Regions from separate parts of the Homo sapiens genome. Here region 2 is linked to region 1. The links come from fine-mapping of genetic effects on gene expression. Tissue or cell type: whole blood. Region 1 holds a variant in brackets; the other region holds the start of a gene. All regions are shown on one strand. Distances are between the middles of the regions.

Region 1 (8,107 bases):
AGTTTCAAAAGTGTTTCACTTTATAAAAGTACACTCAGAAATATGAATATCTATTGCCTTCTTATTCCTCACACTACCTCAGGAAAGCAAATACGTCATTGCAAATATACTAATGTAAGTTATGCTCTACCCTTCTAACCAATGACATAATTCTTAATTCTGTGATTTGAAATAAAAAATTGTCTCAGCACATGCTCTCAAGAAAAGCCTTGCACAGGCCGGGCGCGGTGGCTCACGCCTGTAATCCCAGTACTTTGGGAGGCCGAGGTGGGCGGATCACGAGGTCAGGAGATCGCGACCATCCTGGCTAACACGGTGAAACCCAGTCTCTACTAAAAAAGAAAAATGCAAAAAAAATTAGCTGGGCCTGGTGGCAGGCGCCTGTAGTTCCAGCTACTTGGGAGGCTGAGGCAGGAGAATGGCGTGAACCCAGGAGGCGGAGCTTGCAGTGAGCGGAGATCAAGCCACTGCACTCCAGCCTGGGCGACTGAGCGAGACTGTGTCTCAAAAAAAAAAAACAAAACAAAACAAAAAAGAAAGAAAGAAAAGCCTTGCACAGGCTTTCGGGAAGTTGATCAGGGCTTTACATGTAATTACAGAATAGCAACTAAGCCAGGGAACCTTTTGTGGCCCCTTACAGCTGCACTCTGAAAATTCAAGTGAATAAAATTAGAGTTGAAGTTATGAATAACAAGTTTTAGCCCTGGAACAATGCCTACTGTAACATTCTAGCATTTCAATTATGATCCTACCTGAGGCTGCCAACTAGGCTGGATCTTCCATGGAAATATTTTCTGCACACTTCTTACAATCTCTCCAATTTCTGTGTCTAATCTTCGTGACACATGTTGCCAATATTATCAAAGGAGACCAATTTAGCTGACAAGTGTACAGATTTTAGGTTCCATCCAAACTTTAAGGGGGCATAGTCTTTCCTAATATGCCCTATGTTTAAGGACACTTGCTCTGAAGTCATACAACTCAATTTCTCCCATCTCTTCTCTGCCCTCCCTATTACACCATCCCTTAGTTATCTTCTTCCCTCATTCCCTCCTCCCCCTTGCCCATTCTCTTCATGCTTTCTCCTCTTCATGTCTACGTCTAGCAAGCTGATGGCTCCCAGCAATGAAGTGCAGGTGAAATTCTGACATTGTATTTTTCTCAAATAAGCCACTCAGCCAGTAGATAGCTTGTCAACACCTTTAAAGTACCTAGGTGTCTGGCACTATGGGGAAGAAAAGCTGAATGAACTAATGTTTCCATCCTCACAACCTAGTTGGAAAGATAAAGCATGTTCATGTGAAAAGATAACTAGAAAGGCCAAGCAGGGGACAGCAAAATACTTTCTAACTTAAAATATGATTCAAAGTTAGATTTAGTAAGTTCTAAGCAACTATAGCCGAAGTTAAATCCTTTCAAGATAAAGGGCACCACACTGACCTCAGAAATAAGAGTGTAACCAAGTACCCCCATTTTTCTAAGTGGTAGTTTAATTATTTTTTTCTGTTCTTTTCTCCTTTCTCCTTTCCCCCTGCTTCCTATTTAGCCCTTTTTGAAATGCAAAATAACCTCTCTCCTCCCAGTCACCAGACTTTCCCTACAGCGCAAGTTCATCCGTGTGCCCCAAGATGGAGCTCTCCTCTAGAGTTGATAGTTGAAGTGCAGATCAAAGCATGTCCCCACAGAAATCCCACCTCCAGAGGGTCACCTCAGGAGGGCATGCTTTCCATTTAGCCACTTTTACAACTTATTTCTGCCCAGAAAGGCACCAACTCAACTGTCTGGTAGATAAGAAACCAGGGTAGCAGGGAGACCCCCTGCCCTTGCTCACTTCTCTGGTCAACTTAGAAAAGATTTCACTTTTGCTACAAAGGTGAAGCATCACATTTAAAACAAGACACTTTATGCCCCTTCCCCTAGCTAGCTTCGGAAATAAATTCACTTTTCTTGTACAAGGCCTTGCTCTTGTTAATTGGACTCTAAGTCCAATTAACCTGCTTTTTGGTTACAAGAGGAGGTGGTTATAGCCCAGGATTTTACCAAGCTGAGGTCCATCCTCCAACATTGAAGTCCATAGACCCTGAGTACTGTGCTGGTCAGTCCCAGGTGGGCAGATCCTTGAGAGTCATGAAATCTTAAGACCTCTCAGAACAATCCAGCCTCACTTGAACAGGTGTGTTTGCCACACAGTGGACTGCCTCATTGAATAGTGCCTTGTGCAGAACTAAAATACTGTGGCAAAGCTGTTCCTCTAATGGCTGAATATCTGATGGTGATGTTGATGTTTTTCTCTTTTCCAGTCAGGTCCAAGGTCATATCTACGGTGGACCACTCTTACAGGCTTAGCCTGAAAACTCTATGATTACCCTATAGACCCACCGCAAACACCAAGGTCTGTAAGGTAAAAGAAAAGAGTGGGCTCCCTGGACCTTGACTGCTTTTTAGCCTCTAAAAACAAAATACATTAGCATGAGAAGGAAAATGTATATGCTAAACAAAACACTCCTCCATGTAACCATGTGGTAAGTGGCACAAAAGAAGATGCACATAATGTATCAATGAAACTCTTTTTTGTGTGTGTGTGTGATGGAGTCTCACTCTGTCGCCCAGCCTGGAGTGCAGTGGCGTGATCTCGGCTCACTGTAAACTCCACCTCCCAGGTTCACGCCATTCTCCTGCCTCAGCCTCCTGAGTAGCTGGGACTACAGGCACCTGCCACCACGCCCGGCTAATTTTTTGTACCATTAGTAGAGACGGGGTTTCACCGTGTTAGCCAGGATGGTCTCAATCTCCTGACCTCGTGATCCGCCCCCTCGGCCTCCCAAAGTGCTAGGACCACAGGCGTGAGCCACCGCGCCCGGCCCAATGAAACTCTTAAACACATGGGAAATCACATTGTTTTCTTGTATAAGTAATACTGGATGTTCTCATTGTTTTCCCTACCTTTTATCTACTGCCTTTGTGAATATAATTCTTTGGGATCATAGTAGAAATCACATACTTACTTTATTATATTATCTGAGCACTCTGTAGATCAAGTATAATAATTGATCTCTCTGTGTTTTCTGAAAGTAAAGATAGTATCTGCCAACATACAAAACAACTGATAAGATTATGCAAACATAGCTTTGGGTTTATTCTACACAGAACTTAACTTTTCTTTTGCCCTTTGTCAAAAGTACAATAAAATGTGAAAGTTATAACAAAGTTCTCAACCAGCTCAGTTCAGTTCAGTAATTCTCAACAGGACAGTCAGCTATAGGCCACAAATTTCTGTGCCTGTATCCCTTAGAAAGAAAAGGAAGAACACATTCCAAAAGAATATTCCAGTGTATGTATGGAACAGGAATTAAAAGAAATTAAAGAGTGTGCAAGCAGAAACTCAG[T/C]TGTATGTAAGAAAACCCAATTCCCCCTAAGAAAGAGAAAGAGCTGAAGTCCTTTAAAATTAACTGCCTGTTTTTCTGTGGCTAGTGAGCCTTATCTCTCCCACTTTCCCAGGCATTGTGAAGACCCTGTCTCCTTAGCTGTGCAGCTGCAAGGTCACTAGACAGAAAAACTCAAGTTGCAAAACATGTTTTTCCTTGAAAAGTAAAAAATGATATAATGCATGTCTCAATTGCCTTTGTTTCTCACTTCTGTAGTATACTTTCCTCTGCACAGATCTCCCCCGACCCACGAAATGCTTAAAAGGTAACTTAACTCTGTTCAGGGCTCAGTCCTTTGGATGTTAATCCGACTGGACCAGTGCACCTAAATAATTAATAAATATCCTCCTGAGCCCCATTGGTCTCTCTGATTCCTTAAAAATCTCGTAACATTTCTGGGAACTCGCCTGGGATTGGAGACAACAGATTTACTGTCTCATTTGCCTGGGGGACTAGAGCCCCAGGGCTGGGGAGACCCAGCATCCAAGGCACGCCACAGGGGAGCTTCACCCAGACAGAGACTGGCTCTCCCCACATCCCAGCAGACTGCCCGGCAATGCAACAGAACCAGGAACAGGGCTGCAGGACGATGCCAGCACTTCAGGAACTGTAGTAAGGAGCAAGTGCCTAAGGCAGGGAAGCCTGTCCCATAAGGATGATCACCTCCCAGGGAATGACCACTAATCCAACCCAGAGCAGCTGGGGGTGGCAGGAGAGGCTTGCTAATTTGGATGAACCTCGTGTCCCCATTAACAAAGTGAAAGTGGTTTACTGGATCTGGAGACAGGAACTGGGAGTGTGTGGGTGTGTGTGAACCCACCCAGGACATGAGAGAGGCTCGTTTCGTCTGATGAGGAGTCCTGGGCAGGGGAGGTGTGTGAAAGTGTATGAAAGAGATGGTCTTGGGAGAGGCCAATGCGGGGAGTAACGTGAGGAGGCACAGATCCCTTAGGGCAGGCTGTGTACTCCAAGGTGAGCGTGGAAGAAATCAGACCTAGGATGCCGCATACGGCCAATGGGACCAGTTTCACAGCCACAGCAGGCTGTGACAGGGGAAGGCACATTCCTGGCTAAGCAGTGTCTGAAACTCCCATAAAAGGACCTGGTCTGGTGGATCTGAGAGTGAAAGTGAGAGGGAAAGTGCACTGCAAGGGAGGAAATGGGAGGAAAAGTGTCGAAGCCAACTCCTTTGGAGTGCGTGATAAAGAATTTTAAAAAAGGATTTAGAGGTGATTATGGGATGAAACTGGATGCTCAAAAGTTAAGGACATACTGTGAAATAGATTGGCCTGCTTTCAATGTGGGGTGGCCCTCTGAAGGTACAATAGACAGAAAATTAATTGGCCGTGTGTTTAACGTGGTCACCGGAGTTGGAAGACAACCAGGATACCCAGACCAGTTTCCCTATATAGACTCTTGGCTCAGTGTAGCACAAACTCACCCCAAGTGTCTACAGCCCTGTCTAAAGAGATATTATAAGGCATTAGTGGCTCAGGCAGCCCAACCAAAGGAAGAAAGAAAAACCAGATATAGGAACAGAGATGGCTCAATTTATAGCTGCTGCACTAGCAGAAAGTAACCCTGAATTTGCTAGAGGGCGTGGCCAAGGCAGAGGTCGAGGAAGGGGGCAGACAAGACCAGGAGAGGAAAGCCAATCTTGGTTGGACAGGAACCAATGTGCAAAGTGCAGGAAAATGGGCCACTGGAAAGATGAGTGACCCAAAAAGGAAAAGGATGGAAATGATGGTCAATGGTCTAACACCCAAGTGCGTTATTCGGTTGCTAGTCATGGTGCATCAAGGGCAGATCCTGATCTGATTGGCTTAGCAGGGGCCAAGAATTTTGAGGACTGAGACAGACCAGGCTCCATCTTTTTAGGCCCCGGGGAGCCTATGGTCTCTATGGAAATAGGGGGTCAATTAATGGATTTTTTTGGTCGATACTGGTACTGATTTCTCTGTGGTAACTCACCCAATTAGCCTCCCCACAAAGAACTGTGCTACTATTGTAGGGGCTACTGGGGCCAAAAAAAAGAGACCTTTTTGCAAATCCAGGAGATGTGTTATTGGGGGACAAGAAGTGCAGCATGAGTTTCCGTATATGCCAAATTGTCCAGTGCCCTTGCTGGGGAGAGACTTACTCCAGAAACTGCAGGCAGAAATTTTCTTTACGCCTAAAGGGAATATGACACTGGAGTTTGGAAAGTCCAAGGCAATGGTATGAACTCCAACTGTCCCAAGGGCTGAGGAATGGTGGCTGTGTGAACCGTGTGCCAGAAGGTCACCAGAACCGACCTACACAATATATGGGGGATGCTTTTCAAGGTACCAGGTGTATGGGCCGAGGATAATACCCTGGACTTGCTGCAAACAGACCCCCAGTGGTAGCAGAGCTTAACCCTCATGCTGCCCCGGTATGAGTCCGTCAATACCCAGTACCCAGGGAGGCAATTGATGGAATAACAAAAGCATCTGAATCGGCTTTATACACATGGGATTATAGTAAAATGCAAGTCCTCATGGAATACTCCTCTGTTACCCATGCACAAATCAAATGGGGAATACAGGCCAGTGCAGGATCTCCGGGTGGTAAACAAGGCCACTGTCGCTATCCATGCAACAGTACCCAACCCATACACAATGTTGGGACAGATTCCTGCTGATGCCACTTGGTTCACATGTCTGGACTTAAAGGATGCCTTCTTTTGTTTGAAGCTTGCTCCCCAAAGTCAGAGGGGGCAATCGCAATATACCTGGACAAGGCTGCCGTAAGGGTTTAAGAATGCTACCATTTTTGAGGAGGCCTTGGCTACAGATCTTGAGGCTTTTGCGCCACCTAGTGACAATTATGTGCTATTACAACACATTGATGATTTCCTATTTGCCGCCCCCACGAGGGAGGAATGACTCCAAGGAACAGAGAGGCTTCTTCACGTGCTGTGTGAAGCTGGTTATAAAGTGTCCAAGGACAAGGCAAAAGTCTGTTTTCAGGAGGTTGGATATCTAGGATTCATGGTATCCCAAGGCCAGCGCAGGCTTAAGTGCACGCAAGGAGGCTGTATGTGCACTGCCCACCCCAGTTACAAGGCCAGGGAATTTCTAGGCGTGGCAGGATTCTGCCGAATCTGTATTCCAAACTTCTCCCTTACAGCAAGGCCCTTGTATGAGGCTATAAAAGGAAAGGAAAGAGAGCCCCTCCTATGGCAAAAGAAACAGGAAAAGGCCTTCAAGGATATAAAGGAAGCTCTCATCCAGGCCCCGGCACTAGGGTTGCCAAATGTAAAAAAGCCCTTTTTTTGTATGTGGATGAATGTCAAGGAATGGCAGTTGGAGTCTTAACTCAGTTCTTGGGCTCTTGGCATCGGCCGGTAGCATACTTATCCAAAAGACTGGACTTGGTGGCTTTAGGTTGGCCCCACTGCCTCAGGGCATTGGCAGCTACCGCAATCCTTATAGAAGATGCCAACAAGCTAGCCCTAGGTCAGAAGTTAATAGTTCAGTGCCACACGCCGTAGTCACCTTAATGGAGCAAAGAGGATATGGTTGGCTGTCCAACTCTAGAATGCTAAAGTATCAAGGGCTTCTATGTGAAAATCCCCAGATAACACTAGAGAATGTAAATACCTTGAACCCAGCTACCCTGCTGCCTGTGGAGGAACCCGATTGGAAGGATGCTGGGTTGCCTCACTCCTGGCAGGACCTTCCCCACTGTTGCATAAATATGGTGGACAAAGTGTTCTCGAGCCAGGAAGACCTCAGAGATTCCCCCTTGGAGAGCCCAGATGTTATATACTTCACTGATGGTAGCAGTTTCATAACAGATGGGGTGAGATATGCAGGATATGCAGTAGTGACCCAACACTCAGTGGTTGAGGCTCAAGCCTTACCTTCTGGGACTTCCGCTAAGAAGGCTGAATTAATAGCATTAACCAGAGCACTGTTATTGGCCAAGGGGAAGAAAGTAAACATATGTACTGACTCAAAATATGCTTTTGCAACCCTGCGTGCCCATGGGGGAATACACAAAGAGAGAGGACTTTTGACTACTGAAGGAAAAGAAATAAAAAATAAGGAGGAAATTTTGCAATTATTGGAAGCCGTATGGGCTCCGGAGAAGGTGGCTGTCATTCATTGCAAAGGACACCAAATCAGGAAAAGCTATGAGGTGCAGGGCAACAGAAAGGCAGACCAAGAGGCTCGGCAGGCAGCAATGAGCAAGGCTTCACCTGAAGAAAGAACTCTAGCAATGCCTCTCCTTATAGAGCCCCCTTTGCTGGAGGTACCCCCTTACTCTTCGAGTGAAAAAGCTTGTTTTGTTCTGGAAACAGGGAAATATATTAAAGGTGGATGGTGGCTGTTCTCTGATGGGAGACTAGACGTCCCAGAGACAATAGCCTCAAGGTTTGTGAAGCAGATCCATCAAAGAACACACACTGGAAACTAGAGACTTTGATAGGTCAACACTTCTATGTGCCACGGCTCTCTGCCATCACCCATGCTGTTTGCGAATAATGTCTATCCTGTGTCTGGAATAAGCCAAAACAAGGACCTATTCGACCCCCAGGAATTCAGGAAATGGGAGCTGTGCCTTGTGAGAACCTGCTTGTAGACTTTACCGAGTTGCCTTGAGCAGGAGGTTACCGGTATATGCTAGTGTTTCTTTGCACCTTCTCAGGGTGGGTT
Region 2 (8,107 bases), 27 kb before region 1:
TTGAAAACCTTAAGTACCTAATGGAACCCTCATCCTAAGCAAAAATAGCCACAAATCACGGCCTGATGTAACAGATTTATGTGAGCAGTGACCCTAGAACCAGACTAGGTATCTGAATCATGGCTTCACTCACTACTTGCTAGCTGGCTAATCTGGTGAGCAGTTTATTCTCATTTTGCCTTGGTTTAATAATTTTTTAAATGGAGATAACAATCATACCTAATTCATAGAGGTGTTTTGAGGATTAATTGAGGTGCTTAATTATACAATTTCACAAATGACCATGCAGCCTCACATTTCCTACTTGACTCACTTTCATATTTTTTTATTCACAAGGGAGAGAGAGTGATTGTTCTCCTCTGGCAGCATGTAATAAAGATAGAGCATCTTCTTGTGAAAACAATACACGTACCATGTTTCTATGTACCTATATGTGCTTCCATCAATAAGCCTATGTTGGTTGCTGCATGTATGAGCCCTGGGCCAGGAAATGTGCCAGGAGAGTGTGTCTTTCACTCAGCAGACAGATTTTCTTCCTTGGCCTAATATATCTTATTCCTAGATACCAGAGCAAATAATAATGTAATAAGCATTACCATGTATTAAGTACCTACTCTGGACCCAACCCAAGAACAAGCAGTATGAAGGTGATAAGCAGGGGCACCATGGTGTAATTCACATTTTCATCATCAGATCACTCTGGCTGCTGGGTGGAGAATGTTTATAGGAGAAAAAAGGTGAAAGCAGGGAGACAGGACACTAATGCAATATCCCAGGTTTAAGATGATAGAGATTATCTTAAGCATGTCAGAGAAAAAAAATTAAAGGTTTGGGAATGTGTTTCTGAGGCGGAGTCAACAGGATTTGCTGATAAATTGACTATTTGGAGTTGAAGAAAAAGAATAAAACAGTCTATATATAACCAAGTACCTCTTTTTTAAAGAATCAAATGAATTATTTTTTCCTTTTTCCTTTCCTCACACCTCCTACTTAGCTCTTTGGGAATGCAATTATAAACTTTACCTTCTCTCCACCAGACACTCCCTACACAGCAAGCTTATCTAACTACATGTTTACTTAGAAGTTACAGAGACCGAACCTTAAAGCAAACCAGGAACCTCCAGAACTCTCTCCTACCAGGAGGCAAATTGAGATTGCCTCAACTTACAACCTAGCTCTGCCCGTGACGGTGCCAGCCAGACCACCTGATAGATAAGACATCCGAAGCAAGTCACATAGACTCTGCACTTCATCGCCCTCTCCCCTGCATGCCATTCACGCCAAGCCCCACTTTCAAAGCTCCTGCCTTCTGCCCCAAAGGCTTTAGTGGCTTCCTCAAGGCAGCCTGTACTACTTCCCCTCAACTAGCTCTGGAATAAAGCCACTTTCTTTCTACCAGACGTCGTTCTTGTTCACTGGACTTTGCAACTGGTGAGCAGTCGGAGCTGTGTTCAGTTACATGTATGCCTTGCCTCATTGAACTCTCATGAAAACCCTATGATCGAGACACTGTTGTTATCTCCATTTTATAGGTGAGGAAGCTGAGAACCAGATAGATTCATCCAGTGTCCTAGGACACACAGTGAGTCATGCTTCGGATCTGTGCTCCTAGCTGATGCCTCCCATTACTGGTAGTCCTTTCCTGCTCCCCACAATGTACATTTATTCATTTCTTTTTCTATTTTCTTATTATCTTTCTATTTTTCTTCTTCTTCCTCTCTCTTCTCTCACTAGGGATAGAACGCAAGGATCTCACTTAGCCCAGTGGATGGCAGTCAATTAATGGAGCGAGTGGCTTAGTCCTTGTCATGCTGCCAAGTGCAAGGGCCTTTCCATGCTCAGAATCACCATGAAGACGAGAGCTATCTCTCTTGGTAGGCTACAGACTCAAAGGGTCTGCATATTTATATATGCTGCCAAAAAAACCTCAAATAACCAATAGATATAAATAGATACAGAAAGTTTTTAAAAGAACATTTAAAAATAAAATTTTTAAAAATATTTTTAAAAAACAAAATAAAGTATATAACATCACTTAAGAGCACACACACAATCTCTAGAAAAATTAAGGATTCATGAGTTGTCCACCCTCAAAAGACATCTCCATGCCCTTCCTCATGACAGACTCTCTTAGCGCTTTCCTTTCTTTCATTTTCATTTTATTTCTTATTTTATTATTTATTTTAAAGAAAAGGGGCCTCTGTCTGTTGCCCAGGCTGGAGTGCTGCCATGTGATTCTAGCTCACCACAGCCTCAAACTCCTGGGTTCAAGTGATCCTCCCATCTCAGCCTCCTGAGTAGCTGGGACTAGTGCAGGAGCCACTGCACCAGGCTCTTCAGGGTTTTTCTTCGTAATTGGGCTTATTGGGGTCAGTGGTAGGAAGGCTGTGTAGTTACAAGGCTCTGTGGAGCAGAAGTGGCCCCACATCCAGTAAGCTGCATATCCTTAAATCCCAAATCTCCATCCCAAGATTGGAGATTTTTGGCAGGTATGCCCTTACTGGTGCTCTTCCTATACCATCCCCGATTTTATTTATTTATTTATTTTTTGCTTGTCCTTATAGCACTCCATTTTGCCATGAGTACAGGTTTCTCTTGCATAGCCAAAGATATTCAGTCTCAGGCTAACAGATTCAGCCTCGTGTTTATTCTGTGTTGACTTTCTCAAAGGGTGCGTTAGATTTCTTGCAGAGCACATCTTACCACCCAGAATGCTCTGCATGCCCATCTCCAAGATCCCGATCCCAGCACTGAAGAGAGCATGGCAGCTCTGCTTTCAGTGCCTTTGCTGGAACTCTGAACAAGCAGCCCCCAGTCAATCATTTCTGCTTAATTAATAGCCCGCGCCCTGTGCATGCTGCCAAATATGGAGGGTCAGGCCATGAGATATTCTCCAAACTTTTACTCAAGGCGTCCTATGGTCACCGTGAGATCTCACCTCCCCTCTGAGCCCCCAAATCAGCTTTCCTCAGGGTAATAACTAGGCCCGAGTAGGGTGTAGTCAGCAAAGCTGCAAGCTGGGGCCCCATGTTGCATACATATATGCCTCCTATTGGCCCTTTTCTTCTCCACACTGCCCCTGTGTTTTGGCCACCCCACTCCACCCTCAACTGCCACCCCCACCCACGACCCATACCACACCCCTCACCCCCACCCACAACCCCTACCCCCACCACGCACCCTCCACCCACACCTCCCATCTCCACCCGCTACCCCCACCCCCACCATGTACCCCCACCGGCAACCCCCACCCCAACCCACAACCCCTACCCTCACCCGCAACCCCCACCCTCACTGTGCACCCCCCACCCTCCACCCACACCCCCATCCCCACCTGCACCCCACCCCACACTCACAACCCCCCACTCCCACCTGCAACACCCCCACTCCCCACCCGCACCCCCCAACTTCCCATCCCCCCACTCCTCTCCATTCCCTCTCTTGCTTGTGCGCATAAGCAAGTCCCACTCATTGCAACTGTAACCAATACCAAGCATGAGAACAGGAACTAGCTCCACCCTCTAACCCCCACTCCAGCTGCAGACGCCACGGAGTTTGTGCAGGGGCGCAGCGCTCCAGCCATGGCGCGTTCGCTCGTCCACGACACCGTGTTCTACTGCCTGAGTGTATACCAGGTAAAAATAAGCCCCACACCTCAGCTGGGGGCAGCATCAAGCGCAGAAGGCCATGTTGGCCAAGGAGCTCCAGGCCTCATGGGTAATATGAACCCTGAGGGCGGTGTGAACCACGAGAACGGCATGAACCGCGATGGCGGCATGATCCCCGAGGGCGGCGGTGGAAACCAGGAGCCTCGGCAGCAGCCGCAGCCCCCGCCGGAGGAGCCGGCCCAGGCGGCCATGGAGGGTCCGCAGCCCGAGAACATGCAGCCACGAACTCGGCGCACGAAGTTCACGCTGTTGCAGGTGGAGGAGCTGGAAAGTGTTTTCCGACACACTCAATACCCTGATGTGCCCACAAGGTAAGTGGCCTGCTCCAGGAGCCACGAGATCTCCAAGTTCGTTTCGAGGCATCTTTTTCTCTCCCTTGCCCCACCCAATCATGAGGAAAAAGCCACTGGGGGTCCTTGCCTGCCTTTGTGCTGGTGTGGAGGGGGATATTTACCTCCTGGGCATCAAGGTAAATGTTTTATTGCAATGTTTATGTGAATGAAACCTGGAAACTAGTCCGTGCCTCCCTTTTATAAAGATGTGGTAAAATACACGGAAATATGAAATTTACCGTCCAAACCACTTTTTAAGTATAGAGTTCAGTTGTGTTAAGTATGTTCACATTGTTGTGCAATAGATCTCTAGAATTCTTCTCATCTTGCCAAGCTAAGTCTCTATACCAGTTAAGCAACTCCCCTTTTCCCCCTTTCCCCAGCCCTTGGCAACCACCATTCTACTATTTTATGTCTCTATGATTTTGACTACTCTAGGTATCTCATGTAAGTAGAATCATACAGTATTTGCATTTTTGTCACTGACTTATTTCACTTAGCATAAGGTCTTCAAGGTTCATCCATATCGCAGCATATATTAGAATTTCCTTCCTTTTTAAGGCTAAATAATATTCCATTTTATAGATACAGGTGCACACCAACAGTACATGGGGGTTCCAGTTTCTCCACATCCTCACCAACACTTGTTATTTTCTGGGGTTTTTTACATAGCCATCCTAATGGGTGTGAGGTGATACTTCATTGTAGTTTCGATTTGCTTTTCCCTAATGATTAGTGATGTTGTGCATCCTTTCATGTGCTTAGTGGCCACTTGTATATCTTCTTTGGAGAAATATCTCTTTAAGTCCTTTACCCATTTTAAAATCTGAGTGGCTTTTTCTTTCTTTCTTTCTTTTTTTTTGGTTATTGGGTTGTAGGAGTTCTTTATACACTCTGGATATTAACCCCTTATCAGATGTGATTTGCAAATATTTCCTTCCATTCTATGAGTTGTCTTTTTACTCTGTTCATTGCATCTTTTGATATACAGAAGTTTTAAATTTTGATATAGTCCAAGTTATGTATTTTTTCTTTTATTACCTGTGATGATGGCCTGTTTTTGTTGTTGTTGTTGTTTTTGTTGAGTGGGGGATCTGTCACCCAAGCAATCCTCCCATCTCAGCCTCCTGAGTTGCTGGGATTATAGGAGTGAGCCACCACACCCAGCTGTGGTCTGTTTTTATAAATAAAATTTTATTGAAATTGGGGTAAGGAGAATGAGGTACTGTCATGCAACTACAGTGCTAGATCCTTCCTTTATTTAAAATTTTGATAATTTGTTCATCATAGTTTTTTTTTGTTTGTTTGGTTGGTTTTTTGTTTTTCTGGTTTTTTTGTTTTGTCTTGAGACAGAGTCTCTCTCTGTGGCCCAGGTTGGAGTGCAGCAGTGCGATTTCAGCTCTCTGCAACATTTGCTTCCTGGGTTCAAGCCATCCTCCCGTGTCAGCCCCCTGAGTAGCTGGGACTGCAGGCACAGGCCACCACACCTGGCTAATTTTTGTATTTTTTTTGTGTGTAGAGATAAGGTTTCGCCGTGTTGCCCAGGCTAGTCTCAAACTCCTGGGCTCAAGCAATTTGCCTGCCTCGGCCTCCCAAACTGCTGGGATTACAGGCCTGAGCCACAGTGCCTGGTCCTCATCACAGATTTTTGCATTAATTGTTATTTATTAAAATAGTGCATTAGGGCCAGGCACGGTGGCTCAGGCCTGTAATTCCAGCGCTTTTGGGAGGCCAAGGTGGGAAGGTTGCTTGAGTCCAGGAGTTCAAGAACAGCCTGGGCAACATGGCAAAACCCCGTCTCTAAATAAAACTTAAAAAATTAGCCATGTGGGTGTGGTGGTGTGTGCCTGTACTCCCAGCCACTTGGAAGGCTGAGGCAGGAGGATCGTTCGAGCCCAGGACATGCAGGCTGCAGTGAGCAGTGATCCTGCCACTGCACTCCAACATAGACGACAGTGAGACCCTGTCTCAAATAATAATAATAAAAATAATAATAATGCATTAAATTATTCATCTTGGCCGGGTGCGGTGGTTCATGCCCCAAATCCCAGCACTTTGGGAGGCTGAGACGGGCAGGAGTTCGAGACCAGCCTGGCCAACATGGCAAAACCCCATCTCTACTAAAAATACAAAAATCAACTGGGCATGGTGGTATGTGCCTGTAATCGCAGCTACTCGGGAGGCTGAGGCACGAGAATCGTCTGAACCCCGGAGGCGGAGGTTGCAGTGAGCTGAAATCACACCACTGCACTCCAGCCTAGGAGACAGAGTGAGACCTTGTCTCAATTTAAAAAAAAAAAGGTATTTCTCTTGATTACTGAGTTGTTAACGTCACCTTAAATTTCGTGATGAGGGTAAACCATTTCTAAAGCAACCATGGAGCTGGGAATTAGAGAAAAGTATATACTTGGGGGAGGTGTGAGGGGAGATTATAAATTGTAAAACAAGCATGAAGTAAATAGTACATACTATATATTTCATTTCATCCACAACTTTGAATACTAACCATGTGTGATCTTCTCTCCACAGAAGGGAACTTGCCGAAAACTTAGGTGTGACTGAAGACAAAGTGCGGGTCAGTACACTTGAAAAAGCAATTTGAGAGGACAGCCATTCTAAAACCTGCTTCAGGGCATTGAAGGCTTTGAAGGCTTTGTCCTGAACGTTCTAAAGTTGTTGTTTTTATTATTGTCTTTTTTATGTTGACAAATAAGTTTTGAAGTTTGGGTTCCTTGTCGGTAGAAAAGGAAGTAAGCTCCAGCTTATGGTTCTTTCCTCTTTCCCATTCCAATTAGGGAATATGATTTCCTAAAGGAAAAACAAAACAAAAACTGCTTCTCCTAATCTGTATACAAAATTAAACAAATACATACATATGAAACACATATATTATACATATATGTATTATATATAATACATATGTGTATTATATATAATACATATATGTGTATTATATATAACACATATATGTGTATTATATATTATACATATGTGTATTATATATAATATATGTGTATTATATATAATACATATATGTATATATATCATACATATATACATATATGTATGTATCCAATAAATAAAATTCAACTCCTTCTAACGCTGGTATCTTTTAGGAACAATTTCTGTGTAGAGTCATGGTGGGGTTCAGTCTTACCTTAGAAGTATTCAAGTTAATGCAGGGAGGAGCAGGGTTATAAGAGGGTTCAAGTGTACTAAATTATTTAAGGCCAGGCATAAACACTTAGCTAAATGAGTGAATTTATAAATATTGGGATGAGGGAGTAATTCACCCACAGAACACATTACATGACTAAATAATGTATACTTAGTTAAGCTGAGACTGATGGGAAGATAGCTTATATGTCCAAGCCCCTGGTCCTTCTTTGTTTGTTTTTAAGTTATTGGTAAAGCAGTATAGAGAGTGGCAGCCCTAAGTTTTAATTTTCTAAAATACTTTGATGTGTCAACCTGAAAATATTGCTAAAATAGTCACATTATTTTGAAATTGAGGAAGGTTTGTAAGGTTTGTATGCTTTGGAAAATTGTCTAAAGAATGAAGCAAACAAAATGAGTAATATTGAATTCATTTCAGTTGACCAAGAAGGGTGAAAAGGTTAGAGAGAAATATGGTCAAAATAGGCTTTGCACATACTATGCATGTACTATACAAATTCAACATTATGAAACTACTAAATGTTTAAGTGACTGTTCTCTTGAGGAATTTCTATCCATCTAAGGATTTATATTTCTTTTTGGTGGTACTTTTTTGAAGAGGTGGGTTTTCTGGAATTTGTTTGGAGAGGTGGCCCTCATTTTAGGGTAGATTCACACCCATGTTAATTTCAAATACTTTTCATTCCTTTAAGCAGTGTTAACTAATTAGTAGGTCATAGGATTCAAGTGATGACCACTTAAGACCAAAGAAAACCATACATAGTATCAAAGTGATGTTTTCCCAAAAAAGAAAAAACAAAAATCAGGATGACCTTATTATTAGCTTTTATGCAGAGTGCATGTGTGAGTGTAGTGAGGGAAATGCACTGCCGATCTGGTAGTGGGTTGTCCAAAAAAGCAAACTAACAAAGCGGGTTACTGAGTGCTGGC

The links. PIP is the estimated chance that this variant, and not a neighbour inherited with it, causes the effect.
Region 2: it holds the start of RHOXF1, and the variant in region 1 is fine-mapped to the expression of RHOXF1 in whole blood (TOPMed, PIP above 0.99). The same link has a PIP of 0.9 or more in adrenal gland, blood mononuclear cells, ileum, prostate, thyroid and tibial nerve.

Annotation. Positions count from the first base shown.
Region 1 is chrX:120,083,926-120,092,032 of GRCh38, reverse strand. The region is part of intron 1 of RHOXF1-AS1 (RHOXF1 antisense RNA 1); the gene reads right to left. Among named protein-coding and RNA genes, the nearest start is that of RHOXF2B, 10 kb to the right of the region's middle. The variant T/C (reference allele first, on the strand shown) is at 3,387.
Region 2 is chrX:120,111,337-120,119,443 of GRCh38, reverse strand. RHOXF1 (Rhox homeobox family member 1) reads left to right here and starts at 3,531. Exons shown (of 3, transcript NM_139282.3): 1 at 3,531-3,979; 2 at 6,530-6,575. The coding sequence starts at 3,582. All of the region lies in intron 1 of RHOXF1-AS1 (RHOXF1 antisense RNA 1), which reads right to left. It overlaps LINC01402 (long intergenic non-protein coding RNA 1402), which reads left to right. Exons shown (of 3, transcript NR_126557.1): 2 at 1,533-1,582; 3 at 1,735-1,802.